4 linked regions of the Homo sapiens genome follow. The protein of the gene in region 1 purifies or fractionates together with the protein of each later gene. This does not show direct contact. Each region holds a gene or a part of one and is shown in the gene's direction. Other genes may lie near its edges. The genes, in order: WDR83, CWF19L2, CCT7 and SIPA1L1.

Region 1 (7,785 bases):
AGTAGAGACAGGGTTTCGTCATTTTGGCTATGCTGGTCTTGAACTCCTGACTTCAGATGATCTGCCCATCTCGGCCTCTCAAAATGCTGGGATTATAGGCGTGAGCCACCATGCCCAGCCATCAATTTTTAAAGAAAGGAAAAAAAAATTTTTTTAAGGAGAACGTGTTATGCCAGGCATGGTGGCTCACACCTATATCCTAGCACTTTGGGAGGCCAAGGCAGGAGGATCACTTGAGTTCAGGAGTTTGAGACCAGCCTGGGCCACATGGTGAGACCTTATCTCTGTGAAAAAATAATGTTTTTTAATTATAAAAATGTTAAAGGCTGGACGCGGTGGCTCACGCCTGTAATCCCAGCACTTTGAGAGGCCAAGGCTGTGGGTCAAAAGGTTAGGAGTTCGAGACCAGCCTGGCCAATATGGTGAAACCCCCTTTCTACTAAAAAGACATAAAACTTAGCCGAGCATGGTGGTGGGCACCTGTAATCCCAGCTACTCGGGAGGCTGAGGCAGAAGAATCGCTTGGACCCAGTAGGTGGAGGTTGCAGTGAGCCGAGATCGTGCCACTGCACTCCAGCCTGGGCGACAGAGTGAGTCTAAAAAAAATAAAAAAGGAATTCTCAATAAAAATGTTAAAAATAGACTAGGCACAGTGGCCCACACCTGTAATCCCAGCACTTTGGGAGGTTGAGGCGGGCAGATCACCTGAGGTCAAGACCAGCCTGGTCAACATGACGAAACCCTGTCTACTAAAAATACAAAAATTAGCTGGGTGTGGTGGCAGGTGCCTCTAATCCCAGCTTCTTAGGAGGCTGAGGCAGGAGAATCGCTTGAACCCGGGAGGCGGAGGTTGCAGTGAGCTGAGATCATGCCACTGCACTCCAGCCTGGGTGACAGAGCAAGACTCTGTCTCAAAAAAAAAAAAATAATAATAAATAAATAAAAATGTTAAAAATAGAGGCCAGGTGCGGTGGCTCATGCCTGTAATCCCGGCACTTTGGGAGGCCGAGGCAAGCAGATCACTTGAGCTCAGGAGTTTGAGACCAGCCTGGACAACATGATGAGACCCCAGTGCAAAAATACAAAAATTAGCTGGATGTGCTTGTTTGAACCCAGGAGGCAGAGGTTGCAGTGAGCCGAGATCGCACCACTGCACTCCAGCCTGGGTGACAGAGTAAGACTGTCTCAAAAAAATTAAAAATAAGGAGAACGTGTTAGGGGATGCCTGTACCATGGAAAGAGCTCATTGTATTGTATATACCGGACTCGAAGGTTCTGGACACCAGGGTTACCTGGGCAGTGGCCACATTTAGGAAGTAATCGACCAGCTCCTTGGCGTTGTACTCGGGGCTGCGAGGGTCCTCCACCAGCGGCTGATCGACACACAGCACATCCCAGCACAGATTCCTTGGCGGGTTGTAACCATTGGGAAGCACACCTGCAGGTCACACCAAGTTCAAGGGGTGGCCCATCACCCAGACCTTCCCTGGTTTCAAAGCCGGCCATGTCCCACCCAGGATGGGCTTCAGAATTTGTGTCCCAATGCAAAAGGAAATGCAGGGCCTTTGTTCCCAGACTATAGGAATTCCAGGACAGTGACAACAGAGCAGATATCAAGCCCAGGGCCCTTCTGAGTGTGTGGCACCATGGCTGGCCCTGCCCTCACCAAGCCCCCTACCAGTGAAGAGGTCCGCGGTCGGGGGCTTCAGGCTGGTGCTGGCCCGCCACACCTGCTCCATCTCCAGCTTCTGCATCCGTACCCACTTATCTTGATAATCAAGGCGCCCAAAGAAGAAGCCGTCGAAGCCCATCTGGGGATGAGGGAGGAAAAGGCAGTGTGAATTAGTGCCCAGCCCTCTCACCACCAAACTCCCCTCTGCTTGGGAGGGGCAGGTCAGAGCACAGGTTAAAAAGCAGTGCTAGGTCGATGTGGTGGCTCTTGCCTATGATCCCAGCCTTCTGGGAGGCCAAAACAGGAGGATCACTTAAACCCAGGAGTTTTTGAGACCAGCCTGCACAACACGGGCAGACTGTCTACAAAAAATTTAAAAATTAGCCAGGCGTAGTGGTGCGCTCTTGTAGTCTCATCTACTAGGGGGGCTGAGACAGGAGAATCGCTTGAATCCGGGAGATTGAGGCTATAGTGAGTTAGGATTGCACCACTGCACTCCAGCCTGGATGACAGCAAGACCCTGTCTCAAAAAACAAAAACAAAAACACGTAGGGCTGAAACAGAGAGGCCTCCAGCTTATTTCCAAGCTTGGGGAAGTTTCAGAACTCACCACCTTGGGCTAGCAGGGAGAGGGCGGGTCCAACATCAGAACCCAGGTTCACCTCCCCAGCACTGTCAAAGCGCAGAGCAGGCCTGACTCCAGGAATGAGGTTCCCCCTTCCACAGCCTGAGGATGGATGGGGTCTGAGCACAGGTAATGAACCTGTTTTTAAGGCAGCCTAGGCATCCACTTGCCACCCGGTTTAGGGAGGAGCCAGGACCCGAGCTAGTGGGTGGGGCCAGAACACCAAGAGGGGCCTATTAGGGGAGAGGGCGGAGCCAGCCGGAGCTGGGTCAGCCTGGGCTGGGCATAGCCGGCTGAGGCCAGAGCTCAAAAGCCACTGGCTTTACGGCTCACTCAAGGGGCAGGGCTTCAACAGGCCTAGGCCTGGGCCTGGTCCTTGTGAGATTGCAGGGAGAGGGCGGGGTTTGACTGGGCGAGGGAGGAGCCAGAGTGAGTGAAGAAGTGGGCCCAAGAGAGGTCCCGGGTCGCACCTGCGCAAACAGCGAGGCCTGCTCCCGAGAGTGGCCGAAGGGGTCAATGTGCCAGGCCACACGGGGTCGCCCATCATTGCCAAATGTGTCCTCCAGAAAGCGCAGCCCAAGTGTCATCTGGTCCACGATGGCACCGTAGTGGGTGGCTGCCTCATCGTTCATCACCCAGCCACCATTGGCGAACTCCAGGCGCCCTGTGCCAGGACAGGCAAGGTCAGGGTCAGCGGTCAGAGCCAGGAGTGGGAGTAGGGTGGGTGATACTGGGAATGTGAAAGCCTGCCTGTGTACACATTTCTGGCGGAAGGACAAGAGGGGTCGCTCCCAGGCCATAGTTCCCAGATATGGGAAAGAGGCCCCCTGCATGGCAGGCTTCCCAGAGGATGCACAGCAGGTGGGGCTTTGTGGGATGTATAGGAGGTCTCCAAATGGAGAGTCCAGGCAGGCGGAGCGACACGCATGTTATACAGCTTGCACGTGGCATGACAAATCTCAGAAACCAGAGATGCAGAAGCAGAAGCTGGGCTGGGCTTCCTCTTTTCACTTCCTTGGGGTAGGCTCACCCTGGCGCACAAGGTCTCGCACGACTTCCTGTGTGGCATTTGTCTGCTGGTGCCACCAACGGGAGAAGAAGGCAATCTCCACGTAAATGAAGCGACGGGTGGGATCTGCCAGCAAGGCAGAGATGACCGAGTCCAGGATGTACTGCACACCGGCGTGCTGGATGTCATTCTTGACTGTGGATAACAGGGATAAGGCTCTCAGGGAACAGCAGAGCCAAGGGGGTTATTCCTAGACAGAGGAGCCCAAACCCTGGATATTAGGGTAGCACTGGCCCCACCCTAATGTCCAGGACCCAGAGGGATTACAGGGACCATGGGGATCCCAGGGACCAGTCCCCATCCTCTACTCACTTCCATAAAAGTACTGGTCCACGGTTTTGAGCCAGCCCACGTCATCATGTGTGTGAGGCAGCAGGTGCACGTTCAGCATGTTCGGCTGCACTGTGGGGCATGTCTGCACAGGGACCCCAAACACACATACCTTGTCAATAACCCCCGAGGTCGGGGGCTGCAGAGTAAGTCTTGATCTAGAGGTGAGTGACTCAGAGAGGCCTGATCTCGCCTATGTGCAGAGGAGGCCAGGCCCTCCCAGGCAGGACACACACATACATAGTTGTGCTCATAGATACAACTCCACTTTGCACAACCCCACAGGGCAGCTCTCATTCACACTCCGGGAAAATAATAATAGAAGTAGCTGATGTTTGTTCAGCATTTGCCGACAGCAGACGGCCACCGTGGGAGGTGGGGTGATGTTATCCCCAGTTTCCAGATGAAGGCACTGAGGCTTAGAGAGGATAGGTGACTTGCCCAACGTCACACACTCAGGAAGTGTAAGAGCTAGGCTGGAATTTCAGGCAGACTCCAGAGTCCCAGCTCTCAGCCAGCACCTCCCCCCACACATACACTGCTCACCCCCTGCCACCTCCTGCCCCTCCAATCCCACAGTTAAGTGCAGACAAAGTCTAGGCAAGCATCCCGGAGACACGGAGGCAGGTACAATCAGACACAGTCCTATACTCAGATGCGCACAGCCAGACCTCGCAATGACACAAAGCACGCACTCAGACCACACTGTCATATCATCAGCCATTCACTAGACACCCACAGGACAGACCCACCCACACCTCTAGACTGTATTCTGGGTTTCACTCTGCCTCCTGTACGTTTCAGCTCGGAGGCCCCACTCACCTCGTATCCCCCGGCCCGAGCACCGGCAGCCGCCAGCAACAAAAGGAAAAAGCAGAGAGGCGGGAGCGGTGGCCGCAGGGCGCGGGACATGGTCCAGGGGCCTGCTGAGTCCAGGCAGCCGCGAGCGCAGACCCCCGAAGCCCGCGCGTAGGCGCCCATGGCTCAGCAGCTTCCTCCTGGGGTTCCCCGGCCCTGGAAAGGCCGGGCAAACGCCCCGCCCCCAGACCCGGCCGGGCCAATCGGGGTGGGGGGCGGGGCCAGGGCGCGGTCTGGAGGCTCACGGGAGAGAGGCTGTAGCCCTGGGCAATCCCGGGGGTCGTTACAGGAAGGTAGGAAAATGCCACCCTCAGGGCACTGGTTGGGCTAAAGGTGACACTGGCGTCTCACGGGCTATGAAGACGGAATGCCTCTTAATGCCGGAATTCCAAGACGGAATGCCTCTTAATGCCGGTAGGAGCAGAAGTGCTTTTCCTAAGGGGGCCGGGTTTTCCTAGCCGGTGTAGTGTGTCCATGGGAATCCAGGGTGTCCGTCCCATGGACCTTCAGCGCTAGGGTCCTGGAAGGACCTAGCTTGCCTAAGAGGAGGATCTGATGAAGAGTCCTATACTGTGGGGATTGGGACGTTGGGTAAATACCCCTGGAGTACCAGGGATGGGATCCAGCCTGGTTGAGAAGGATCCCTGGGTGTTCCGGAGAGAAAAGAGGGTCTGACAAGTGGGGAAGGACCCCGAGTCTTTCATGCCTTTCCCAATTCCTACCAGTTCATTCTCTGATAAGAAAACAAAGCCCAGGGCAGGCGCAGTGGCTCAAGCCTGCAATCCCAGCACTTTGGGAGGGCCAGGCTGGTGAATCACTTGGGCCTGGGAGTTTGAGACCAGCCTGGGCAACATGGGTTGTTTTGTAGAGACGGGTTTGAAAACACAAAATTTGTAATTTTACACAAAATGTAAAAATACAAAAATTAGCTGGGCATGGTGGCACATGCCTGTAATCCCAGCTACTTGGGAGACTGAGGCAGGAGAATCACTTGAACCTGGGAGGCGGAGGTTGCAGTGAGCCGAGATCAAGATCATGCCATTGCCCTCCAGCCTGGGCAACAAGAGCAAAACTCTGTCTCAAAAAAAACAAGAATTAACTGGGCATGGTAGCACGCATTTGTGGTCCCAGTTACGTGGCAGGCTGAGGTGGGAGGATTGCTTGAGCCCAGGAGTTTGAGGCTGCAGTGAACATAGATTGTGCCACTGCACTCAGCCTGCATGACAGATCAAGACCATTTTCTTTCTTAAAAAGGAAAAAAAAAAAAGGAAACCAAAGCCTAGATTATCTAGGTCAGCAGGGCCATCTGGTGAGTTGCCAGAGGGCAGAAGTCACTGTCTTGTCCCTAGCACCTGACTTAAGACACAAGGTTTATGAAGTAAGCAAATGAACAGCCAGAAGCCTCCAGACTGGGGCCCCACACCAGGCCTATGGGGCTAGAGCCCTTCCCGCCAGGTAGGAGGAACACCCCACTGAACAGAAGAGGCTGACAGCCAGAGTGAAAAACTTTATTAACAACAGGTTTCAACGAGAAAGCAAATGAATACCCCTAGAAACATGGACAGCATCTCCCCCAGCAGCAGGCAGGGGAAGGGAGGCAGGAGGGGTAAGCCTAGGGTGTTCCCTAGGAAAGGGCCAGGTTCCCTCTATCCAGCTGGGGGCACCGAGACGGCCTCATTCAGGGAAGTCCAGGATGGCAGCTGAAGGCAGCAGGTTTAGCAGCCAAAGCCCAGGCCTAGTGGATAGACAGGGTCCAAAATGTGACCCTTCTAGGCTGGTATCACCATGGGGGCGTCATGGGCTGAGGATTCTGCAGATAGGACATCACCACGGCAGAGATGGACAGCCTGAGACAGGAGAGAGGTGTCAGTCTAGGATGGCCAGGCTGGGGTCCCCCCACCCCTTACTCAAGAGTCACTTGTTCTGTAGGGCAAGTCTCACATGAAGCTACTCATCATTTGCTTCGTGTCCTCCGAGCTCCGAGAGTTGGCAAAGCTGATGAAGGAGCAGTAGACAGCGACCCAAGCACACCACTTCAGCTAGGGAAAGGTAAGTGGGTGGGCAGGTTAGTGAAAGGCACAACAATGAGTCCCCGAAGCCACCTTTCCAGACACCAGATCATGCCCACTGATTCCATCTGATGCAGCTGGGACCTTGCCCCACCCGGAATTCCTCAGTCCCACCTGCTCATGGCATACTCTAGATACGTGGTTTCTAGTCCTACTGTCTGGCCTGCGTCTCTCAGGACCAAGAGAGACTCTGACATCCCACATGCTTAAGACCCTGCCCTTTTTCCACAACTCCTCTCCAAGTTGCTTCAAAGCCTGGCCCCACTCGCAGACCAATCTGCCACATCCCCAACCTGACTCGAATCCTTGACTTCACCAAAGACTGGGGCTTTCTCGGCCCAGCGTCATCGCAGCCCCACTCCCGGCCGATCTCAGGTCCCGCCCCATCAGCAATGACAAGACACCCCGCTTCATTCCAAACCCGCCCCCGGGCCTCGTTCTCAGGTCCAACTACACCCATAGAAGCTCAACCCCGCCCACCTTAAGCATGAGGCCGCACATGCTGAAGATCATGCCCAGCAGGTTCATGTAGTCCGGCGTCGGGTCGTCCAAGGCCGGGTTACATTCGCTCGGCGGGGGCTTGTACCTGCGACAGGCTCGAGGGTCAGGGGCGCTCAGGTCCTGCCCCCGGGATAGACAGGCGCTTCCCAGGGCCCCGATCCACACCCACAACCCGAACCCGTGCCCACGACGCTGGGGTCCTCACCTCAGCACTTTGTTCGGCCTCCGTGGGTCCGACATATTGTTAGTGGACATAGCGAGTCGAAGGCCAGATCACGCCTCTTCCGCTGCAGGAATCGCAGCTTCCGGCGTGCAAGCTGAGGGCGGATTTTAGAGTAACACCCGAGGCCCTCGCATTTCCGTTCCTCATGACAGAGGCTTGGACTCCCCTTACCCAGAGAACGGAGATTTAGGAGAAGCCAGAAGTCTTCCTTTCAAAGGGAAAATGGGGAAAAGAACCTGAAAGCGGGCTTCAATAGTTCCAACCCGATCACCGAAATGCCAAAATGATGAACCCGGAAGTGATAAACAGGAAGTAGGTCAGGAAGAACAATAATAAGGTTACACCCAAGCGTGGGTTTCTAAGGCGCGGAATTTTCCGTACAGACCGATTTAAGGCTGCAAGGAAGGAGTCCTGGGAGCATGGCTTTCCCTGAGCCAA
Region 2 (7,019 bases), on another chromosome or scaffold:
TCTGTTTCAATTAAATGATTTTTCTCTTGAATATGGGTCACATTTGCTTGCTTCTTTGAATGTCTAGTAACTTTTAATTGGATGCTGAACCCTATGAAACTTATATTGTGACTGCTGGATTTTGTTGACTTCTTCAGAGAGTATTGAGTTTCCTTTTGGCATACAGTTAATTACTTGTGAATTAGCTTAATCCTTTTCAAGGATTGTTTTTAAGTTTTGTTCGTATGCACCTAGAATAGCTTTACTCTAGGACTGGTTTAGCCTTTCTACTAAGGCATGACCTTTGTGGGTTCTCTGCTGATTGTCATGGATGTTCAGCGAGGTTTCTTTATTCTGGTTGGGAGGAACTAGAATGTCTTCCAGCCCTTTGTGAGCTCTGGGGATTGTTCTGCTTACAGCTCTTTGGTAATTGTTTTCTCCATGGTAATTTTTCTTTGCCTGACCTTGTGGACTCTCATCCTCAGCATGTTCAGCTTGGTCTTTCTTTAAAGACTCCAGGGGTCCTTTAAGTAGATTTCTGGCACCCTTTCTCTGTGTAACTTCCCATCTGTACTTTTGTTTCAGCCTTCACAAAGTTCAAATTCCGTTTCCTTTGCTCAGTGAGATTTTCATGTTCTGCTTGGGTTACCCCTCTATGCCACAGTCTAGAAAGTGCCTTTAGATAAAAAGCTGTAGAGATTGTAGTTTCATTTTTATTCCAATTTGTATGTATTTCTAGTTTGATGCCATTTATTTTGTCAAGGACAGAAGCAGAAGTCCTCAAGATCCCTTGAGTTTTGCTGGTAGCACTTTTCTGTCTTAGTTCCACCTTCTAGGTTTTGACCACTAGATAGAATTAGAGGTGTGGTTAATTCTGCAGGCTGCACAAGAGAAGGAGAGCCCTGAAGGCTGTGTTAGGTCAGGAGGCGTATTAAGCTTGATAGTTAATGAGTTCAAGGTAAAATGGAGATTGAAACTAAAATTAGCAAGAGAACTGAAGTCGTAGCATGGGGAGCATCAATTTTGCTGAAGTGGTAAGGTGAGTGAGTGCATAATTGTGAAAATGAGTATAGGTTGCTGCTTAAAAGTTTCTGACTAGTGCTATTGAAAGAGTAGAAAAAGACATTTCATTTAATTTCAGCTTGCATTTATCAAATGCTTATTCTTTGCCAGACACTGTTCTAGACATGGGGAATATAAAAATATATTTTTAAACCTTTGGGGAACTCATTTCCTAATTGGATAAATAGATACATAATATTAATAATATGATTTTGTAGTAGATTTTGTAGAAGAAGATGTTGGCTTTATTTTCTGTTGTTACTGAGTTTAGCATACCATCCAACATGATGCCATGGTAGTACAGGGTATTAAGAGGGATTTCATTTGCTAACTTGTTGATTAAATGATGCTTGAATTGAGACTAGATAGATTAGTAAGCATTAGGCAAATAAAGGTGTGCTTGGCATTTCATGCATAAGGAATTGCGAGAGCAGAGACATGGAAGTATGAGATAATATGAGTGTGAGTATGTGTGTATGTATGTAAATATAACTATAAGCAATTTGATAGTACTAAATTATAAAACAAGAGGAGGGGGTGAATGGAGATGAAACTGTAAGAATTAATAGGGCCTTGTAAACCAAGAGCTTTGACTTTATTCAGTAGGGAATGTATCATCTAATTGGGTTCAGCTGCATTTATTAGAAAATCTCAGAATAGCCATTGATTATACAAGATAGAAATTCATTTTTTTCTGATATGAAATAAGTCAGGTAGACAGTCTAGGGCTAGTATGGTCTTCTGGGACCTAGGCTTCTATTGTCTTGCTTTTCCATCATCCTTACAGCATTGCCTCTTAGTCCAGATAACAGGAAAGAAGATGCTCTTTTTTTTCTTAACTTGACTTCCAGAAAGTCCCATAAAATACTTTTGTTTACATCTAATTGGACACTTGATCATAAGGCTTCACTTTCTAGCATGGGAAGTACATTACTTCTCCAAATAAAATGGGATTCTGTTGGTAGGAAAGAAGAGGGATAACTAGCAGTCTTTGTAATGGGAAGCCCTAGAAGAGAAGTACGGTGGTCAGATGTTCCCTTTATATTACTCTAAATGTATTTGGGGTGAGGGGTTGGAGAAAGAAGGGGAGCAGGAAAGATGAGTCCAGGAGATTAATTAGGTCTCCTGGAATCAGTTGTTTAGGTGAGAGATAAGATCTGATCTAGGGCTACTACTTTTTTTTTTTTTTTAAGGCGGAGTTTTGCTCTTGTCCCCCAGGCTGGAGTGCAATGGCACGATCTTGGCTCACCACAACCCCCGCCTCCCGGGTTCAAGATACTCTCCTTCCTCAGCCTCTCAAGTAGGTGGGAGTACAGGCATGCGCCACCACATCTGGCTAATTTTTGTATTTTTAGTAGAGATGGGGTTTCACCATCTTGGCCAGGCTGGTCTCGAACTCCTGACCTCATGATCCACCCGCCTCGGCCTCCCAAAGTGTTGGGATTACAGGCGTGAGCCACCGCGCCCAGCCTGGGGTGCTACTTTAAGGATCAAAGAAGAGAATATTAGTTGGTATTTTGGTTGCAGGTAACAGAAACTAAATATAAATTGGATTTTGCAAAAAGGATTTATTATTAAAGTACAAAATTCTCATAAGACATATAGATGTAGGAATGCAGCTAGGCTTCAAGAATAGCTGGAATTAGAATTGTGAATGGTTTTTGCAATTTTCTTGCCATTTTTCATTTCCCCTACCCTGAGTTCTAGTTTTTAAAAAATTTTTGCTGATTTCTATTTCTCATGACAGAAATGGCCTCTCCCAATGCCTTCCCATTTCTTAGTTTTAGATAAGCCCATTTAGACCTGATTTCAGATTCCTGTGGAATGGCTCAGGTTGATGTGAATTGGGTCAGGTACCTACGTTTGAACTAATCAGTAGTGGCCAGGGATAGAGGTAGGCTCGTATGGTAATCATGTATTCACTCTATGGTATATTTAATAAATATTTTAAAAATGAAAATGGTAGGCTTGAATATGTGAGGTAACATCATCCTGAGTTTCTGACTTGGTTTAAGTGGGTGGTTGGTTGTTCCAGATAACTCAGTTCAATACTATACAAGGAGAAGTAGATTTTGTAGAAGAAGAGGATAGCTTTATCTTCTGTTCTTACTGAGTTTAGCATGCCATCCAACTGCAGTAGACAATTAGTCAGTGAAACTTTGGTTAGACAAATTTGAAAGATATCAGCACAATTTATTGTAGTTCAGGCGATCAGAATGGATTTAATGGCCCAAAGGGAATGTTTAGACATTGAAAAATGTCATGGGCAAAGAATGGAATCCCAAATAACAAGATATTTAAGGGCTAAGCAAAGGAGGAAGAGTTCATGAAGGAAATGGAGAAGAAACAGAGTGGGAGGAGAGCTGAGAGGTGTCATGGAAGCCAGGAAAGTGAGTTATCAACAGAGTTGCATTAAGCAGAGAGGTCTAGAGAGCTGAAGACTGAAACGTTTTGTTGAGTTCGGCACAGTGGAAGCCACTGGTGAGTTTGGAGAAGTTTCAGTAGATTAATGGGGACAGTAGATGTATTGTAGAGTTTTGAGAAAATGTATGAAAGTGAGAGTGTGAAGGCGGTGCATGTAGACTACTCTTTCAAGAAGTTCATCTGAGAATGGAAGCCGGAAGATTAATTCCTGCTAGAGGAGGAATATACGGGGTCAAGGAAGGTCCCCCTTCCCTCCTTAAAAAAAAAAAAAAAAGGGTGGGAAATGCTTGAAATTGTTTCTAGGCCATTAGGGATCTTTGGTTAATGCCGTGAGAGGAGAAGATAATTGATGGAGCAAGGTCCTGGAGGAACAGAAAGAGTTATCAAAATCTTTAGAGCAAGATCTGCCTTAAATAGGAGGAGTTAACTGGAAATAAGGATAGGCACAGCCATAAATGTTTTGGGCGGTGGGTAGGAGGATAAGGTGGCCCTAGTTTTCTTGATGAGGTAAAAGAAGACATCATTTGCTGAGAATATGGGAATTGGTATAAAGCTTCAGGAGGGTGTTGAAGAAGATAATGTTATCTGCAGTTTTAGATCAAGGGAAATCTCAAAATGTGAAACTTAGGGGCAAACAGCAAATTCGTTTACCTGGGTGGTGTTTCCCCTGTTCTAGTGAAGCAGAGATGTGAGTAACTACTTGACGTTGGTAGTCACTGAAGCTCTGTGCTGAAGTGAGGTCTCTACTTGGCAGTTCCCATTTTTGTTTTTTTGCCTTCTCTTGGCTTGATAATAAATGGATGAGAAAATAAAAATAATTTGGTTGTGTTTGGTGGGCTTAACTCAAACTAGTGGGTTTATATGTTTTTTCTTTAAAAAAATTTTTTTTTTTGAGACGGAGTCTCTGTGGCCCAGGTTGGAGTGCAGTGGTGTGATCTTAGCTCACTGCAACCTCTGCCTCCTGGGTACAAGCGATTCTCCTGCCTTAGCCTCCTGAGCAGCTGGGATTACAGGCATGCGCCACCACGCTTGGCTAACTTTTTTGTATTTTTAGTAGAGATGGTGTTTCACCATGTTTGCCAGGCTGGTCTTGTACTCCTGACCTCAAGTAATATGCCTGCCTCAGCCTCCCAAAGTGCTGAGATTACAGGTGTGAGCCACCACACCCAGCTCTTTAAAATTTCATTGCCATTTTGTAAAGGGGAAATACAGTGTAAGAATTTTTTTCTACGATGTTGAATTTCTACCACTTAACAGCACAGAATTTTTATATCAAAGTATGCAAATTTGACAATTTCACTTATATGCTAAATGTTCTTAGAGCTCTGAAGATGAGTGGGTTGAGGCTGTTCCATCCCAGACTCCTGACAAGGAAAAAGCCTGGAAAGTGAAAGATGAAAAGTCAGGAAAAGATGACACCCAAATTATCAAGGTAAGCAAGCCACTTGATTTTCCTTCCTTGCTTTCTTCCTTCCTTCCTTCCTTCCTCCCTCCCTCCCTCCTTCCCTCTCTATCCCTCCCTCCCTCTCTGTCCCTCTCTCCCTCCCTCCCCCTCCCTCCCTCCCTCCCTCCCTCCCTTCCTTCCTTCCTTCCTTCCTTCCTTCCTTCCTTCCTTCCTTCCTTCCTTCCTTCCTTTCTTTCTTTCTCTTTCTCTCTCTCTCTCTCTTTCTCTCTTTCATTCATTTTAGAGACAGGGTCTCACTCTGTTGCCCAGGCTGGGCCGCAGTGGCACAATCAGAGCTCTCTGCACCCTCGACCTCCCAAGCTCGAGTAATCCTCCCACCTCGACCTCCCTGGTAGCTGGGACCACAGTTGTGTGCCCACCACGCCTGGCTAATTTTTTTATTTTGTGTAGAGTTGGGGTCTCCCTATGTTGCCTAGACTGGGTCTCAAACTCCTGAGCTTGAGCAATCCTTCCACCTCAGCCTCCCAAAGTGCTAGAATTAGAGACGTGAGCCACTGCACCTGGCCTATCACTTGGTTTTAAAGAAAAAAGTATCAACTTTTGAGAATAAATGAATATGAAAATGAAAGATGATTAAAATTTCTTCAGGAGAACAATTAGACTTTGAAAACAATATACTTTAGGAATAATTTTGGCAGTACTGCTGTTTGCTGAATGTTTAGAACCCCCTTCCCCTTCTACTGTGAGAAAGTGAGTGTTCCTCTCTATTCTCGTTCCTTAGAGGCTTTCATGCTTTTGATTGTTGATAAGAAGTGGCACTTTCCCCTTATGTCCCTAAAGCCTTATACTGTATCTCTGTCTGACCCTTCTATAGTGAGTGGAGTTCCATCACAGTTTTTTTTCCCTTCACCTCATGCCTTAATTTTCTTAACAATACTTAACAGTTGAATAGTTCAAAAATTTTGGGCTATAGTTCATCTGCCTCAGGAAGAATGTAATTTGTCCACTGTTAGCCACAGGTGAAGGAAGAAAGGTGAACAGGAACTAAGTTTGATTGCTTGTTGTGTGCCAGGCTTTGGGCTGGATGCTTTAGATCTGTTATCTTGTTTACTCTTTAAAACAATCCTGAAAGGTAGGGATTTTATACCATTTTATAGAGGAGAGACTAAAGTATAGAGAGATTTAGAAGCTTGCTTCAAGTTATATAGCCATGTAGGACTTGTTTCAGGTTTGATTGCCTCCAAAGTCCCTGCTCTTATTACCAAGTGTTTATTAAATTCTAATCAGTTCAGATTGAAATGATGAGTGGATGACTGTTGATTTTATGTCTTTTTTTTTAACAGAGGGATGAGTGGATGACTGTTGATTTTATGTCTGTTAAAACTGTGTCATCATCATCACTCAAAGCTGAAAAGGAAACTATGAGGAAAATAGAGCAAGAGAAAAACCAAGCGCTTGAACAGGTAAGAGAATATTTGAAATGCTTTAACTTTCTAATTTACCTTTAATAAACTTACAAGACATTTATATAAATGCAGTTTAACTTGTAAAATACCATTTTATTTTTTATAGTATTTAATACAATTAGTGAGAACAACTATGAAATACATCAGTTTAAGAAAAATAAATTTCCTATAGGAAGTGAGTTTAAAGGTTTACTAGATTTATAAATCTAGGGCATATATAAAGTTGAGTGAATATTGAGTTTAATATCATTAAATTGAAAGTGAACTCACTCAATTTTTGTTTCAGTGTACATACTGAATTAGACACCATGAAAATACTTCCATTTCAAGACATCTAGAAATTCTGGTGGATATAATGTAAAATAAGCATGCTTATTTTATACTTTATTGTTGTCACTTTGCTAGTAAGGAAGCAATAGGAAATCTGTAGAGACCAAAAAATGAGGCAAAAGCATGAATCCAGAGAAGTAAGGAAGTGCTGAAGCTGATGACTTTCCTAGGGGCATCACACAATCCTGGTAATCTGGAATTCCAATTTATACTGTACCAGGAGCATATGTTTCTTTTCCAGTACTCAGTATCTGTAATTGTCAAACTTTATATATTTTTTTATCAGCCTAATAAATGGGTGAGAAATGGTATTTCATTGTTTTTGTTCGCATTTATCTGATTGCTACCAGAGA
Region 3 (7,019 bases), on another chromosome or scaffold:
GTGTCCCAGCCCACAGAGCACAAAAGAAGCTGTCGACTGTAGTTTAAAAGCTGCCACATATGAGATCTTTGACTGCAGTCACCATCTGTCACTGATAATCTGCCCTAAAGATACAAAAGGTGAAGTTGGAGAGGGCTGAGTTTAGAGACTGGAAGGGAACTACCTCCACACTGTAGTAGAATCAGATAAGAGGGATTTGGTTTTCAAGACCTGATGCAGATTCTGCCCTTGTGTCCCAGGGAGCAGAGGAAGCTGCTGGAAAAGTGTGCCATGACCGCTCTGAGCTCCAAGCTGATCTCCCAGCAGAAAGCTTTCTTTGCTAAGATGGTGGTGGATGCAGTGATGATGCTCGATGATTTGCTGCAGCTTAAAATGATTGGAATCAAGAAGGTACAGGGTGGAGCCCTCGAGGTAAGCCTGCTGTGGCCTTCCTAGACAGCTCTTGCTTTCATATTGACCCTTCAGACAGCTTCATATGGCAGAGGGGTACTCATTACAGGAATAAAGAGAATGCATGTTAGGCAGGAAGTCAGACTTACATTGTACTTTCCATACTGCCATTAGAGGCTGTTACTAGATGAACTTGGTAACCTCTGTGGATATTATTTGTCAGCAGAGTAGAAAATTGGACTGTATGATTTTCAGAATCTCAGGTTCTCTGTGTCAGTGGGTGGTGGAGGGGTAGTAGGACTAGCTCAAATCATCAATGACCTCCCAATTAATACATCTGAGAGGGATTTTTCAGTTCACTGCTTACTCCTAAGTGATACTGTTAAGCTTGCCCTTCTTTCATTCATTTATCTTGAATAGATGATACATATTTCAAACTGTGAAGGGGCCTAAAGTTAAAAGTGTTTCATGCACTACCCCTGCCCCATATACAGCCACTATTAGTTTGTGTGTATCCTTGCAGAATTACTTTGTGCATATATGAACATGTATGTAAATACTGTTTTTTAAAGACAAAAGATTGCTTATATAGTGTTCTGTAGCTTGCTTTTGTCCATTTAACAACATATTTTAGAAATTGATCCACATTAGCGTGTGTAGCTCTTAACTCAGCACCCTCCAGTAGAGCTTTCTGTAGGGTGGTGGGACTGTTACATATCTGCGCTGTCCAATATGATAGCCCCATCCACACTTGGCTACTGAGCACCTGAAATGCAACTAATGTAACTGAAGAACTGAATCTTAATTTTATTTCCATTTAAATGGCAACATGTAGCTAGTGGCTACTGTCTTGGACAGCACAACTCCTTCTTTTTAACACAGTAGTATCTGTCTGGAAACGTCCTTGGTATCTCCATGCTGCTTTTGGCCTTTTCAGTCTCTGGCCTGCTTTACTTATTACTCTTCGTCAGTGACCTCAACTGAAGCGATTTGGATAGAGGAGGACCAGCTTGAAAGATAGCCTGGCCCTTCTCTTTAAATTTTACCCTCCCAAATTGCATTCCCACTTTGCCATTTCCCCTCCTATTGTGGCACATGTCAGACCAGTGGGCTGAGATTCTCTGTATGTAATAAAGCTGTGAGGAACCTGGAGGTCATCTGAGCCATTTCCCTATCTTCATCATGGCTTGCTGACTTTGTCTTTACTCACTGCTTTAGTAGCGATTTTTCATCTTCTCTTGGGCCTTCCTACTTCCATAAATGGTTGAGATTAGATTGGCATCCACTTCTAATCTAGAAATGGCATCCATTTCTAATCTACATAGATTAGAAATCAGGACTAATAATCTTACCTGGCAAGAGAGCCAGGGACTCTAAGCCACACTTGCGTTTTTCCGAGACTGTCCTACATTCGTTAAATACATACAAACCTGACCCAGAATTCAATAAATAGTGGTAGTGATTATTTACTTGTTACCAGGGTTAACTGGGAATTTTCTGATCCATATCTTTAGTACTCACCTCTCCTCTGAGCCTCATGCTCTTTCTTGTGTCTAACTGCTGTTAAACGCTTTATCTTGTCCTCCACTCCTGTGATAGCATTTTCTGTATTTCTTGTCATAGTTGGTGTCACCACCGTTTATTCAGTCACTCAAACCAGAAATCTGGGATCATCCTTGAAAACCCTTCTGACTCCAGCCTGTCAATTACCATTGTTCCATTTTACCTCGTGATTTCCTAATTATTTATTGAGTCTGTCTCTTTTACTCTTTCTGGTACTATTGCCACCCCTCTTCCAGTCTTGGATCCCCTAAATCCATTGTACTTATTTACTATTTGCAGGGTGAAGTTTCCTACTTTATTCTTCTGCGTAAAGCCTTCTGATATCTACATTCCCTATACAAAGCCAGGCATTAACAAAGCCTGTAAGATCCTTCTAAACTGGCCCCTGCCTACTTCCCCTCTCTCTTCTTCACTGGCTGGTTCTTACCCTCTAAATTCTAGCAACTTCAAATGGCTTTTCATTCTCTGATTCCACAACACTGCCTCCCACCTCTTAGGAGAACCCCTTTTTTCCTTTTTTCTCTTTGACTAATTTCTGCTCATCTGTCATTCAGCTCAGGCATCACTCCCTTTAGGAAGCTGTGGATTTGAATGATGCAGGAACTGGGGACAGATACTCTTCACCCATGGGTTACAGTATTATAGATTAGAATTGTAGATGAGCACTGGCAGAGAAACTAAAGGTTATTGAACTGAATACCCTTTTTTATGGTGTGGGAAATGACTCGGTCATTTAGTAAGGAAAAGATCTGAGATTGGAACCTAAGTCTCACGGTAGTGCTGAGTCAGCCCTGGGTGCAGTGTGCTTTCTATTATGCCCTGCTGTTAAATCCAACCCACAGAGAAGCTCTGTTGCAGAACAAGTGGTAGAAGATCCCTACCTTGAGGGATTGAGGTCTGAGGAGCTGCAGTGATAGCTTAGAAATTATGCAGGGGATTTCTGATTCTTAAGACCTTTTGGCATCATCTTCTGGAGGGAGGAAGCGTCAAGGCTATAGTATCCATGCTGTTGGGGGTGTGGGGGTGGAGGGTGCAGTGCAAATTATGGGTACATGGAGGTGTACAGGAGGATACTTGAGATTTGGGAGCTGGGGCATAGAAGAGGGTAGCATTGCACAGCTTTTGTTTTGCCTTCTTTGTAAACACCTGGCTCCTCTTCTGGCATACTTTTTGGAAGTTTGTACAGCATTATCCATCGGCCAGTGCTGCAGAGGCCAGTCTTAGAGGACAGCCCAGTAGGCCTTTACCATGCTTTGCCTCTGCTAACCAGATGATTTTCCTTATGCTTAAGGGGTGACTGAAATAATATGTTGTGTTATTTAAAAAAAAAAAAAAGGATTTGTCTTCGATTTTATGATAACAGAAAGGCTGTGTTACAGCAGTGAAATAAAGACATGATTAGCTCAGGCTCACAGGAATGGATAAGCACTAGCCAGCAAACAACTAGCTTGATTTTATTTCATGTTAGTACCAAACCATTAAAGTGTTTGTTTTTTTAAAACAGGATTCTCAGCTGGTAGCTGGTGTTGCATTCAAGAAGACTTTCTCTTACGCTGGGTTTGAAATGCAACCCAAAAAGTACCACAATCCCAAGATTGCCCTTTTGAATGTCGAGCTCGAGTTGAAAGCTGAGAAAGACAATGCTGAGATAAGAGTCCACACAGTTGAGGTAGGTGGGTTCACCAGTTGGTGGGGGCATGGAAATGGGCAGCTTTCTGAGCCAGAGCCCTGGGTCTTCATGGCTATTGTGGGCCCCTTTCTCTTCCTGCCCCCCTGAATATTGATGTCTAAGTACTAGGCCCCCTTCTTTCCATACTCTGTGTTCTCCCTGAGTGACCTTGACCTGAGGAAATTTGGATAGGGAACACCTGTTGAAATACGCTGTGGTCCTGGGGAAGGGGATGGCAGGGACTCTCTAGCTACATAGCCTGCCCGGTATTTTGGTTCCTCTTGTTGGTGCAAGTGTGAGTTCCTCCACTTCTAGACTAGACCTAGTGCTGCAGAGACAGGTGTGCTCTCATTGTTGATGTTACCCAGGCTACCTCTGGAGGTAGCCATGTCACCCACCTTTGAGCAGTTCTTGGGGAAGGGGTCTTTTTTTTTTTTCCTTTAAGACGGAGTCTCGCTCTGTTGCCCAGGCTGGAGTGCAGTGGTGCAATCTCGGCTCACTGTAACCTCTGCCTCCTGGGTTCAAGTGATTCCCCTGCCTTAGCCTTCTGAGTAGCTGGGATTACAGGTATGTGCCACCATGCCCAGCTAATTTTTTTTTGTATTTTTAGTAGAGACAGGGTTTCACCATGTTGGCCAGGCTGGTCTTGAACTTCTGACCTCAGGTGATCTACCTGCCTTGGCCTCCCAAAGTTCTGTGATTACAGGCATGAGCCACTGTGCCCGGCCAAAGGGGTCTTATTGGGAACTCCATGAATCCAGCACCTCAGAAGAGTCTAGACCTCAGCCAGTTTAAACTATTTCTCGCATCTGGACAGCACCAGCTGTGGTTCTCAGCCTTGGGGTTACTTTCTGCTTTTGTGTTGGGGAGTTTCAGGTGATTCCTAAGTCATCTCATGGGGTCCTTATTTGCTTGGACTGAGGAGTAGCTATTCTGTTTATCTCTGTTAATTCCCAGATGAATCAGCATGTTTTATTTGGTGGGGGCAGATGGGTATATTTTACCCTACCGTATATGTCAACCTTCACCCCAAAGCATTCTCATCCTTTTCTGGGTCTCTCCAGGATTATCAGGCAATTGTTGATGCTGAGTGGAACATTCTCTATGACAAGTTAGAGAAGATCCATCATTCTGGAGCCAAAGTTGTCTTGTCCAAACTCCCCATTGGGGATGTGGCCACCCAGTACTTTGCTGACAGGGACATGTTCTGTGCTGGCCGAGTACCTGAGGAGGATCTGAAGAGGACAATGATGGTAACCAGATTTTCACAGGCTGCTTCTCGGCCTTTGTGGCCCTGAAGGGTTTTCACTGACCCCTGGTATAACAGAGTGTACTGTCAGGTTGGCGTGTGAATTGAGCCCTGTTTTTTTTTTTTAACTCTTTTTTTTCCAGGACACATTCCATTTCCATGTGTGTGTGCCCAGTAGCACAAACTACTTTAGTCTAACCAAAACAAGTCCAGAAATCTGGTTTGTGAGAGAACCTAGCAGTAATGCTATGATTAGCTGGACAAACTCAAATATTGATTCTTCCAGCCAGATTTTTTCCCTTTCATGAGCATCCCACAAAAGATACTTTTAGGTTTAAAGTACTCCTGAGTTCAGTTGCTGGACCCAGTGCCACCCTAGTTTAGGGGAGGGAGTATAAGCTGAATTGAATGGGTCCCTATCTCCTTTTAACTTCTTCTGTTTGCCTTTGATGTGTTTTAGTTCTATTTTGTTTTTTTTTTGCTCTTTCAGAGAGGGGGAAGGGTCGCCTGGAAGTCAAGGGAAAGGGCGGGTAATGTAGAGGCTCTGGGGGCATGCGTGGGAATTGGCTTTGAGACGAGGTGGCAGGAAGCTGCCTGGCCTCGGGAACCTTCACTGCTAGATCTTGCCTTCCTTGCTCCCTAGGCCTGTGGAGGCTCAATCCAGACCAGTGTGAATGCTCTGTCAGCAGATGTGCTGGGTCGATGCCAGGTGTTTGAAGAGACCCAGATTGGAGGCGAGAGGTGAGCCGTGGGCCCAGGCCGAGCTCACAAACCTGCCTGGGTCTGGTCTTCTGCCATCTTTTGGCTGTGGTATACAGCTTTTACAAAGTCTCACCTTTGTGTACAAAGTGGTATACAGCTTTTACAGAGTCTCACCTTTGAGCCATAAAGAGCTCAGATAATATACAGGATTACAGGAAGATCTAAAAGCCTTGACTCCACAATCTTTTATGCCCTAGTGGTACAGCTGCAGACCTTTCCAAGAAAATGTCTATAAGGTTGGGATTGGGTAACCTGAGTGAAGAATGTAAGAGCAGCTGCTGAGTGTTGGGGGGGCTGGCAGTGAGGACAATACAGTAGGATGGTGGCAGACAAGAGTTCATGTGTGTACTGTTTAATCCTGGGCATAGGTACAATTTTTTTACTGGCTGCCCCAAGGCCAAGACATGCACCTTCATTCTCCGTGGCGGCGCCGAGCAGTTTATGGAGGAGACAGAGCGGTCCCTGCATGATGCCATCATGATCGTCAGGAGGGCCATCAAGGTACTGGGCTGATATCCTCCTGCTTGCACAGCCTACTCTCTCCTATCTCCCTAGCTGATCAGACCTTGGATTTGTGTGGTGATTCCTTCTCTATATAACCTGCCCTTTCCTGGGTGGTGTGGTGAGCCCTGATTTGCCCCACAAATGGTAGAGAAACTGAGCCTCAGTTTCTCAAAAATAGGTCATCCTGCCTTGAAAGCTAAGACTTGTTCTTTTAGCCGGGCGTGGTAGCTCACACCTGTAATCCCAGCACTTTGGAAGGCCGAGATGGGAGGGTTGCATAAGACCAAGAGTTTGACACCAGCCTGGGCAACATAGCGAGATCCTGTCTCTACAAAAATAAAAAAATTAGCCAGGAATGGTGGCATGTGCCTGTAGTCAGTCCCAGCTACTCGGGAGGCTGAGGTGGAAAGATGCCTTGAGCCCAGGAGTTGGAGGTTACAGTGAGCTATGATCACACCACTGCACTCCAGCCTGGGCAACAGAGCAAGCAGAAGAAAAAGACTTCGTTTTGTTAGCAAACTGGAGCTAATGTAGTCAGATATTCCAGTAATTGTGCCAGTGTCCTTGAGCTGCAGGTGACCTTGAAAATAGTCAGAAACCATAAGGTTCACCAGGTTGAAGTTGGGATGTTCTAGATAGGGGCTGTGTCTGGGCGTTTGGGGCTTGGGATGGAGGAAGGAATGAAGAACCACTCTTTCTGGGCTGAAGGGACCTACTGAGTGGCCCAGCATGGAAGCTTGGACCAGGGGCCCTCTTACATTGAGAGGTGGTCTGATCTCTGCAGAATGATTCAGTGGTGGCTGGTGGCGGGGCCATTGAGATGGAACTCTCCAAGTACCTGCGGGATTACTCAAGGACTATTCCAGGAAAACAGCAGCTGTT
Region 4 (7,804 bases), on another chromosome or scaffold:
TAGCTGCGACTACAGGCACGCGCCACCATGCCTAGCTAATTTTTGTATTTTTAGTAAAGATGGGGTTTCACCATGTTGGCCAGGATGGACTCGATCTCTTGACCTCATGATCCACCTACCTCAGCCTCCCAGAGGGAACCGGTTTTGAGAGGGATATCTGGAGTTCAGGAGGGCACTGGTTTTTGGGGGAATATTTGGAGCTCATCAGTTTTAAACATGTGAAATTTGAAATACCTAGTACATAATCAATTGCAGATGTTGAGTAGCAGATGGATGTACAAATCTGGAGATGGGGGAGATGACTAGCCTGGAGGTGTAAGTTTGGGAGTATTTAATGTATAGATGGTATTTAAAACTATCAGACTGGTGAGCTCACCACAGAGTGAAAAGAGACCATAAAGAGATGTCCAAAGTCTGAGTCCTGGAGCCTCCTATGTTGAGAGGTTCAAGACTAAAAAGACCAGAAAGGTAGGATAAGAACTAGGATAGACTCTTGGCTCAGAAGCCAAGGGAAGAAAACATTTCAAGAACCAGCATGGTTGACCTCTTCCCTGCTGCTGAGGGCTCCAGCCAGGTGAGCTTGGAAGTTGAGCACCAGATTTAGCAATAAGGCAGTCACTGATGCCCCTGAGAAGACCTGTTGCTGTGGAGTAGTGGGGGTGAAAGGCTGCTCAGAGTGGATTCATGGGAAGGGAAGGATAGGAATTGAAGACACCAAGCATGGAAGAGCCTTTTGAAGATTCCAGTTATAAAGTGAAGCAGGGGGAGACATAAAATTTAGGAAGCATTTTAGTTTTTACCACGGCAGATATTCCAGTATGCTTGTAAGCCCTTAGAAGTGAAGCAGTAGAGAAGGAAAATTTGCTGATTCAAGAGAGAGTGGGGACAGTTGCTGAATCAATGTCCCTGAGTTAGAGGTGATGGCACTAATGCACAGACCGAGGCTAATCTTGGCTAAGAGCACCAAGAGTTCATAAATGACAGGAAGGACAGAGGAGTATATGCAGACAGATGCAGGCAGGTTGGTAGACAAGAGTGATAGAGAGGGTATGTGTGTTCAGTTCTCTTCTGATTATTTCTATTTTACCAACAAAAGAGGGAGCAAGGCCATTAGCTAGAAGTACTAGGCAGAGGTTTGATTAAGGAGGAGAAGATGTGAAACAGTCCTTTAAAGAGGAGGGAAGAGCACAGGGAAGTATAGTAGTTTTGCTGTTAATTGATTAACAGAACGTTATAATTATTTATAACAACGTTATAAAGTAGTTGGTGTTTTAAACTTGTAATGAATACTACTATGTAAATGAGAGAAGGGGCATTTGCTAAGGAATCCAGTATTCATGTAAACAGAGTTACATCAATAAGGCTAAAATAATAACACCCTAAAATTAAAACAACATGGGATATCATTTAATCCTGAATAATTTTGAGGGCACTTTGGACCTTTGTAATGATTTAGAGTAATCTTTCTAAATATCACTTAGAATAATGCCCTGCAGATGTACAGCTACTGGAGTTCTGAATAGGCCAGTTAAATCAGATTTTAAATGTAAAACATGCAAATGTGAGTCAGTGTTTATAATATTAAAAAATACATAAAATTTGTATGGTAGGCCTCTGTGTCAAAATTCATTCTATATTTGGTATACACTATACATTAGGGTGTTTTGTTGAGTAGAGGTAAATAACCAGAGGGAAATGAATTCACCTGGGTTTTAACGAAATAAGAAGCAAATAGGGAGGGAACAACATAGCAAATGACTAGATGTTCTTATCACTAGAAAGGTTACATATCCTTTGTGTTGGAGGGCAAAGGCAAGGGGTTGAGCAGAGATGGGTAGAGGAGCCAAGACAGTGGACAGGAAGTGGACTGAGATCTAGTCTGTGCTCTTGGCAAACTCTCCATTCCGCATTTCCCTCTTCTGCTGCCTGACATCTGCTATTTTGAAACCTAGGAAGGTCAGGAAGATACAGCAGGAGTGACTGACCTAGAGAATGTGCAGTTGGAAACTAGGCTTTGGTAGCTTTCACTTTTTATCTCCTTTAGAAACACGGATGAAAGTTCTGCCATCAGTGAGGGATAAATAGTAGCCCAGGGCCTTGAAAAAGCAGTTTTAGATCCCTGGGACAATTTCTACTATTTTACTATGTCTGAAGATTAGGGAGGTTATTTTTGTAATTTGAGGCCAACACCCATCTCTTGAGCCTTATATGAAGCACTGAAGAATGTTAATAGATTTGGCTAGCATTTGGGTCAATTATTTCAAATGGCTATCTGGGAGTCATAAAACAGATGGTCCTGAAATTGTACTGCGTTGGTGGATGTAGATTGGCAGCCATCTTTTAAGGGCAAAATTATGTTAAAAGCTAAGCCAGAACAAATGAGCAACAACTGATTTATAATATTTTGCAATGTTATGAAAAATGGTTCCTTAAAACAGATTCACAGGACTGATGGTGATGTTCCATTGTGTTTCTTTGTGAAAATGTGATATTAAACACACCAGTAAATGAATCTGAGGCCCTCCGTCCTTCCCCTCCTCCCTCCCTCCCTTCCTTCCTTCCACAGATCTAGTCTTCGCTCCTTCCTTCCTTCCTTCCTTCCTTCCTTCCTTCCTTCCTTCCTTCCTTTCCTTCCTCCCTCCCTCCCTCTTTCCTTATAGTTATTTTGGGAGTATGGATGTATTTAGTTTGGGTCTTTGGTTTTAATTAGAGTATTTATTAAATAACAAGGAATCTGCTTTGAGTTAGTGTAAAAGCAAATCATGAACTATAGATTACCTTTGAAATTACTGTAACATGGTCAATATTTTTGTTGTTTTTGTAGTTGGGACAAGATAAATTTTAAAATAAAATTGTCAACATTTAAAGAAAATTGTCAACATATAGCTACTCTTTGTGAAACTGACCTACTATAAGATGAAACTTTTTTTATCATTTGCTGTAAAAGGAAGATTTGTTATTTATTGGAAAATTTTATAGGTCTAAGAGCTCTTATATTAAATTATATATATATATATATATATATATATACTCACACATACATATGTGTATATATATTTAGATGCAGGATCTCACTGTGTTGCTCAGGCTGGAGTGCAGTGGTGTGATCAGAGGTCACTGCAGCCTTTAACTCCTGGGCTCAAGTGATTCTCAAGCCTCGGCCTCCTGAATAGCTGGGACTACAGGTGCATGTCAGTATACCTAGCTAATATTTTTTATTTTTGTAGATACAGGGTCTCTCTATGTTGCCCAGGATAGTCTCAAACTCCTGGCTTCAAGCAGTCTTCCCACCTGGGCCTCCCAAAGTGCTGGGATTATGCATGTGAGCCACCATGCCGGCCAGCTATAGAATTTTAAAGCTGTAATAACCTAACATGTGGGGTACCCCCCACAGATGAAGAATCAGAGAGATTAAATAACTTCTCAAGGAGACTCAATTATTAGTGGCACAGAAAAACGTAAACCCTAGTTTGCTGACTTTGTCTAGTATCACTTAGGTTTCTAATACACAAACTTTCATTGACAGGATTTAAACTTGCAAGTGACTTACAAGTTTTGACTGCCTAGTCCTCATATGCTTAGGTTATGCTTTAGGTTTCTAGTTCTGTGGGACTGAGTTAAATAATGGTTTCCCCATGTTCATGGATAGGAATTTTAAAAATTGAGATATAATCCACATACAATGGTATCTATTTTTACTCATTCATTTTGAAATCTAAAGTTTAACTTCTATTCATAATATCCATTTTACTTAGGCAGTGAGTATATAATAACCCTCACCTCAGAAAAGTTTCTACAGTTAAAAGACACGGGCTGAGGAGAGTTCATCTTCATCCTTACTAGCATTTTGGAGTACGTATAAAGGCGTCTGCGGATGCCTAATGATTAAAAAAAAAGTTCCCCTCACCATGGTGAATAGGGTTTTTACGAGAAAAATATGGAGAAAGCAGAGATTATTACCATTGAAAAAGACAAGGTGTTAACAGAAATGGGAGGGTAGCTTGATAGAGTCCAAACTTGACTGAACTCTCTAGGTTAGGGCCAAAGGCAAGTACTGAGGACAGGCATGGACTGTTGCGTTCAACTTGTCAAAAAAGTGGCCAATATGTAGTATGGACCAAGCCTATAGAGGCGCTGAGAATACAGAGATGAATGAGCCAGTTCCTGAAGGAGCCCAGTCTGCGTGTGTTTGCGAGTTGAGAAGAGGAGGAGGGAGGCAGCATGGGGAGTGTGGGGATGGAGGAATTAGATTGAAAGAGAAGGCCGAAAAACTGAATATATAGTAGAAATTTGGGGTGCAGATATGTGCTGCCTAGAAAGGCAGAAACCTGTCCCAGAACCTCTTAATACATTAGTCTCATTTGCCAAATTTGGCCAGATATCATGACTGTGGTCCTCTCGAGATGCCCTCTTGAATCGGCTTAAAAATTATCCTTCCGCAACCACCCCTAGCTTTCCCCACCGCCAGTGCGCCGGGCAGGTTGAAAACTGCACCCACGTTTGCAGCCTCTGCTCTCCGCAGGAGACAGGAATCCAGGGCTTTGCCGTCGTCATAGCAACCAGAAGTTCCGCGGTCCCCTACCCTCCCGCGACTTTTTCCACTTCCTCCGCCTGCAGGGCCCAGCCGCCGCTTCTCTCGCGAGACTTGTGCGCCGCGCTAAGCCGCTCCGTGGTGATCTCACCCGAGACTTGGGGGAGAGGGAGGAGTGAAGGAGGGGAAGGAATGGGGCGGGAGGCGGGGCGGGGAGGGGAAGGGCGAGTGAGGCGCCGCCACTGCCGGCAACTTTGTGAGCGAGTTCAGTGCGTGCGTGAGCGAGTGAGCGAAAAGTCAGTGCAGCGCCGAGTCCCCGGCTGGAGGGTCCCCGGGGAGGGCCAGGTCTGGGCCCCAGAGGCCGCCCCCGCAGCCACTCCATTCCCTCCCGCCTCTGTGGCTCCCTCCCCATTTCCTCCCCCACCGGTCGTTGGGGCCTTCCCGCCCCCGTCCGCACTTACCTGTCCCCTCCCCCATGCGGTACGCACCTCCTCATCCCCCCCCCGGCAACCTCGCGCCCACCTTGGACCTTCGGAGCCCGGACCCCCGCACTTGCTTCCCGTACTGGCCGCCCCCTCAGTTCTTTCTGCTGGCGGGCGGGATGGGGGCGCTGAGCCTCGGGGACGGCGCGAGCGGGGGCCCGGGCGCCTAGACAATAGTTGATGCCCAAGGACGGGGCCACCTCCGCCTTCCCCTCCTCCGGGAGCTCGGCCCCCGCCGGCCCCCCGCCAGCCTGTATTCCGGGTCCCCCTCGGAGCCAGCCTCGGGAATTGGGCTGATTCCACCCCCGCCTCCCTCGGGCCCCCCTCCGCTCCGCGCTCGGCGCCCGCCTCGGGCCGGCCTCGCCGCTCTCCGCAGAGGAGGCGGCGAGTGAGCGCGCGCCGGCCGTCTACACGGTTTCTCTTTCTCCCCAGGGAGAGCGCGCGGCGGACGCGCCCGGGACGCGCGGCGGCACCGGGAGGCCGGGCCGAGCGGTAAGTGGTCCCCGCGCCCGGGTCCTGGGGGGAGCGGGGGTGCAGGACGGCTGACAGCCCCCTGCCCTGTTTCTGGCCGGGGTTGGGGTCCAGGGCCCGGAGCAGGACCCCAGGAGGCCGGTTAAAGTTTGATTTTCGATTTGGTGGCTTGCTGGTAGCTTAGCCCGGCGGGGGCGAGTCCGGCTTCACCGCGCCCGGCGCGCGCGCACGCACCCCAGAACCCGAATCTGCACAACTACTGGGCAGGCGTCTCTGCGGGAGGCCAGGAGACCCGCGTCCCGGTCCGGGCGGTTGCGTCCACCCCGCTGAGCTGGTCGCCACCTGGCGACCCTTCCCCTCCAGTCACCTGGGTGAGCGCTTTGCAGCCTGAGCTGGAGTAGGCAGGCCGAGTTGGTTGAGTTGTGGGAAATGGAGACGAACAGCTCGGTGCCCGAGGGTGGTTAATTTCCCCTTTGGGGGTCTTGGGGACATGAAATTTTGGGATGCTCTAACCTGCTTTCCGGGGAGCGAGTAAACCGCGAAAGGGCTGGGAAGGCGTGAGGGTGCCGCAAAAAGAACTTTTCCTCCTTCGCCCCATCTGTTACCAGCTTCTCTCCTGACCTTAAAGGAAATTTCCGAGGCTCTTAAATCGCTCCACGGCATTTCTAGGTGGACCAGTAATCGTGTTGGGCAGGTTGAAATTTCATCGCGGTTTGGAGAACAGAGAGACATGGGAAATGGCTCACTTCCAAGGAAGATGTTTAGCTAAATTGTTGGCATTCGTTTTCTAAGAGAAGCATTTGGGGATTGATGGCTCCTAGACTACGATTACCTTATAGATTTTATTTTTCCTGACGGGTAGTTTAGAGGCAGCATTCGCTGAAATGCATACTACCTGTGAAACGATCATGTTTCTAAACTGGAGCCAGCGATGTGATGCAAATTTCAGAATAAAGGTGTCGACTTTCATCAGGTTCCAGGTCTATCTGGATGGACTGGGATTGGCGTTTCCTCTATAAAGCAAACCTTTCATGTTGAAACTCTGAGTCAGACTCTTAAAGCCATTGTCTTTATGCTGGTACTCTGTGGGAGTTAAGTGTCAACTTTCTCCTGTTTTCTCCTATGGAGTATCCGTCCAAGGCAAAGATTCTCTGACTGAATCTTTTGGAAACGTGCAAGGTTAGATCATACTGAATTCTGCAGCCAGTTTAGTAATAATATTAGTTTTCTATATAATCCTGATTTAACGACTGTCATTTTTCTCTTCGTTTTTTGAAAGCTGCAATTAAGCTACCTTTACCAGGATTTAAAAAAGAGGATAATATGGAACAGTGGTAATAACAGTAGGTCTCAGCTAATTTATTATGGCCACCGATGTGTCCAACTATTAGATGACATCCCAGTTATTAACTACAATATTAATATTAAAACATTTTTCCCATGGAATCAATTATGCTAAAGCATTAACAATTAACAGTGCATTTAAAATGATGAGTGATTGTTTCCACATAAATGGTTAGAGGCAAAATAAGAGATTTGGGGGATGAATGGCTTTATGTCTCTGACAACTAATTTTCTTATTAATGCTTAAGTAAAGGACTCTTGAAGTTGACTGTCATTTGATTTTTCTAGTTGACTGAGTGAACAAGTTTGGTGAGTGGCTTGAGACAGTCAGTAGGTGTTGCTGTTGTTAGCTTCTCTGCAGTTCCTGCTTCTGCTCCTCGAGTTTGAAATTGCAATTCTGGTACAGTGAACTTTTAAAATCTGAAGTATCAGTCAGTGATAGTTGTGATTTCATTGGAGGAGTCTATGGCAAGGTTGACTTCAACTCCAGGTAATAATTGCAAAGCACCTCTCTGATACTTTGTACTGAGATTCATTTAACTCTTCTTTTGTCTCTGTCCTTACACTAGTATTTTCAGGCTTCTGCATTTGCTTTGCTTTTGCTTTGAAGTATGTGTGTAATTTTGGTATAGTGCCCCCATCTTCATTGTTTAGGAACTTTTAAAAAACACTTTCTAGTGAGTTTATTGAAGTCATAGATTGAAGATTGCTTGAGATTAGCAGTTTTGTAGACTTCGGGGGGATCTTGGTTGAGTTGTGATGTATATATGTTCTATCTTAAGTTGCAATCTGAATTTTTAGATAAATGACTGTTTTTCTTTTTTTAAAAATCTGTTTGAGCTGTGAAATGGGAGCATGAGGAGAGCTGAAATGGTATGAGAGTGGAATTTGATGGAAAGTTTGTCATGATTAATAATGTGACTATGTGCCTCTTATCAGTCCTTACCGTTGTATTATCATTGTTATTGGTCCGTAT

Evidence for each region.
Region 2: the proteins of WDR83 (region 1) and CWF19L2 purify together in Homo sapiens (affinity purification with mass spectrometry; 4 studies listed by BioGRID and IntAct, with this or other methods). This does not show direct contact.
Region 3: the proteins of WDR83 (region 1) and CCT7 purify together in Homo sapiens (affinity purification with mass spectrometry; 4 studies listed by BioGRID and IntAct, with this or other methods). This does not show direct contact.
Region 4: the proteins of WDR83 (region 1) and SIPA1L1 purify together in Homo sapiens (affinity purification with mass spectrometry; 4 studies listed by BioGRID and IntAct, with this or other methods). This does not show direct contact.

Annotation. Positions count from the first base shown.
Region 1 is NC_000019.10:12,662,025-12,669,809, forward strand, and holds the start of WDR83 (WD repeat domain-containing protein 83), read left to right. Parts: upstream 1-4,782; 5' UTR 4,783-4,968; intron 4,969-6,048; exon of another isoform or gene 6,049-6,334; coding exon of another isoform or gene 6,335-6,401; intron 6,402-6,483; 5' UTR 6,484-6,495; coding exon of another isoform or gene 6,496-6,593; 5' UTR 6,594-6,603; intron 6,604-7,103; coding exon of another isoform or gene 7,104-7,209; intron 7,210-7,329; coding exon of another isoform or gene 7,330-7,379; exon of another isoform or gene 7,380-7,391; intron 7,392-7,728; exon of another isoform or gene 7,729-7,730; 5' UTR 7,731-7,766; coding exon 7,767-7,785. Other genes in the region: MAN2B1 (lysosomal alpha-mannosidase isoform 3 precursor), read right to left, coding at 1,293-1,438, 1,679-1,811, 2,768-2,961, 3,328-3,501, 3,679-3,781, 4,519-4,677; WDR83OS (PAT complex subunit Asterix), read right to left, coding at 6,335-6,401, 6,496-6,593, 7,104-7,209, 7,330-7,379. UniProt on the Homo sapiens protein: Molecular scaffold protein for various multimeric protein complexes. Acts as a module in the assembly of a multicomponent scaffold for the ERK pathway, linking ERK responses to specific agonists.
Region 2 is NC_000011.10:107,440,817-107,447,835, reverse strand, and holds part of CWF19L2 (CWF19-like protein 2), read left to right. Parts: intron 1-4,786; coding exon 4,787-4,897; intron 4,898-6,213; coding exon 6,214-6,333; intron 6,334-7,019.
Region 3 is NC_000002.12:73,244,305-73,251,323, forward strand, and holds part of CCT7 (T-complex protein 1 subunit eta), read left to right. Parts: intron 1-239; coding exon 240-411; intron 412-3,457; coding exon 3,458-3,622; intron 3,623-4,686; coding exon 4,687-4,875; intron 4,876-5,514; coding exon 5,515-5,612; intron 5,613-6,001; coding exon 6,002-6,134; intron 6,135-6,921; coding exon 6,922-7,019. UniProt on the Homo sapiens protein: Component of the chaperonin-containing T-complex (TRiC), a molecular chaperone complex that assists the folding of actin, tubulin and other proteins upon ATP hydrolysis.
Region 4 is NC_000014.9:71,315,677-71,323,480, forward strand, and holds the start of SIPA1L1 (signal-induced proliferation-associated 1-like protein 1), read left to right. Parts: upstream 1-4,799; 5' UTR 4,800-4,827; exon of another isoform or gene 4,828-5,445; 5' UTR 5,446-5,505; exon of another isoform or gene 5,506-5,855; intron 5,856-5,997; exon of another isoform or gene 5,998-6,172; intron 6,173-7,258; exon of another isoform or gene 7,259-7,804.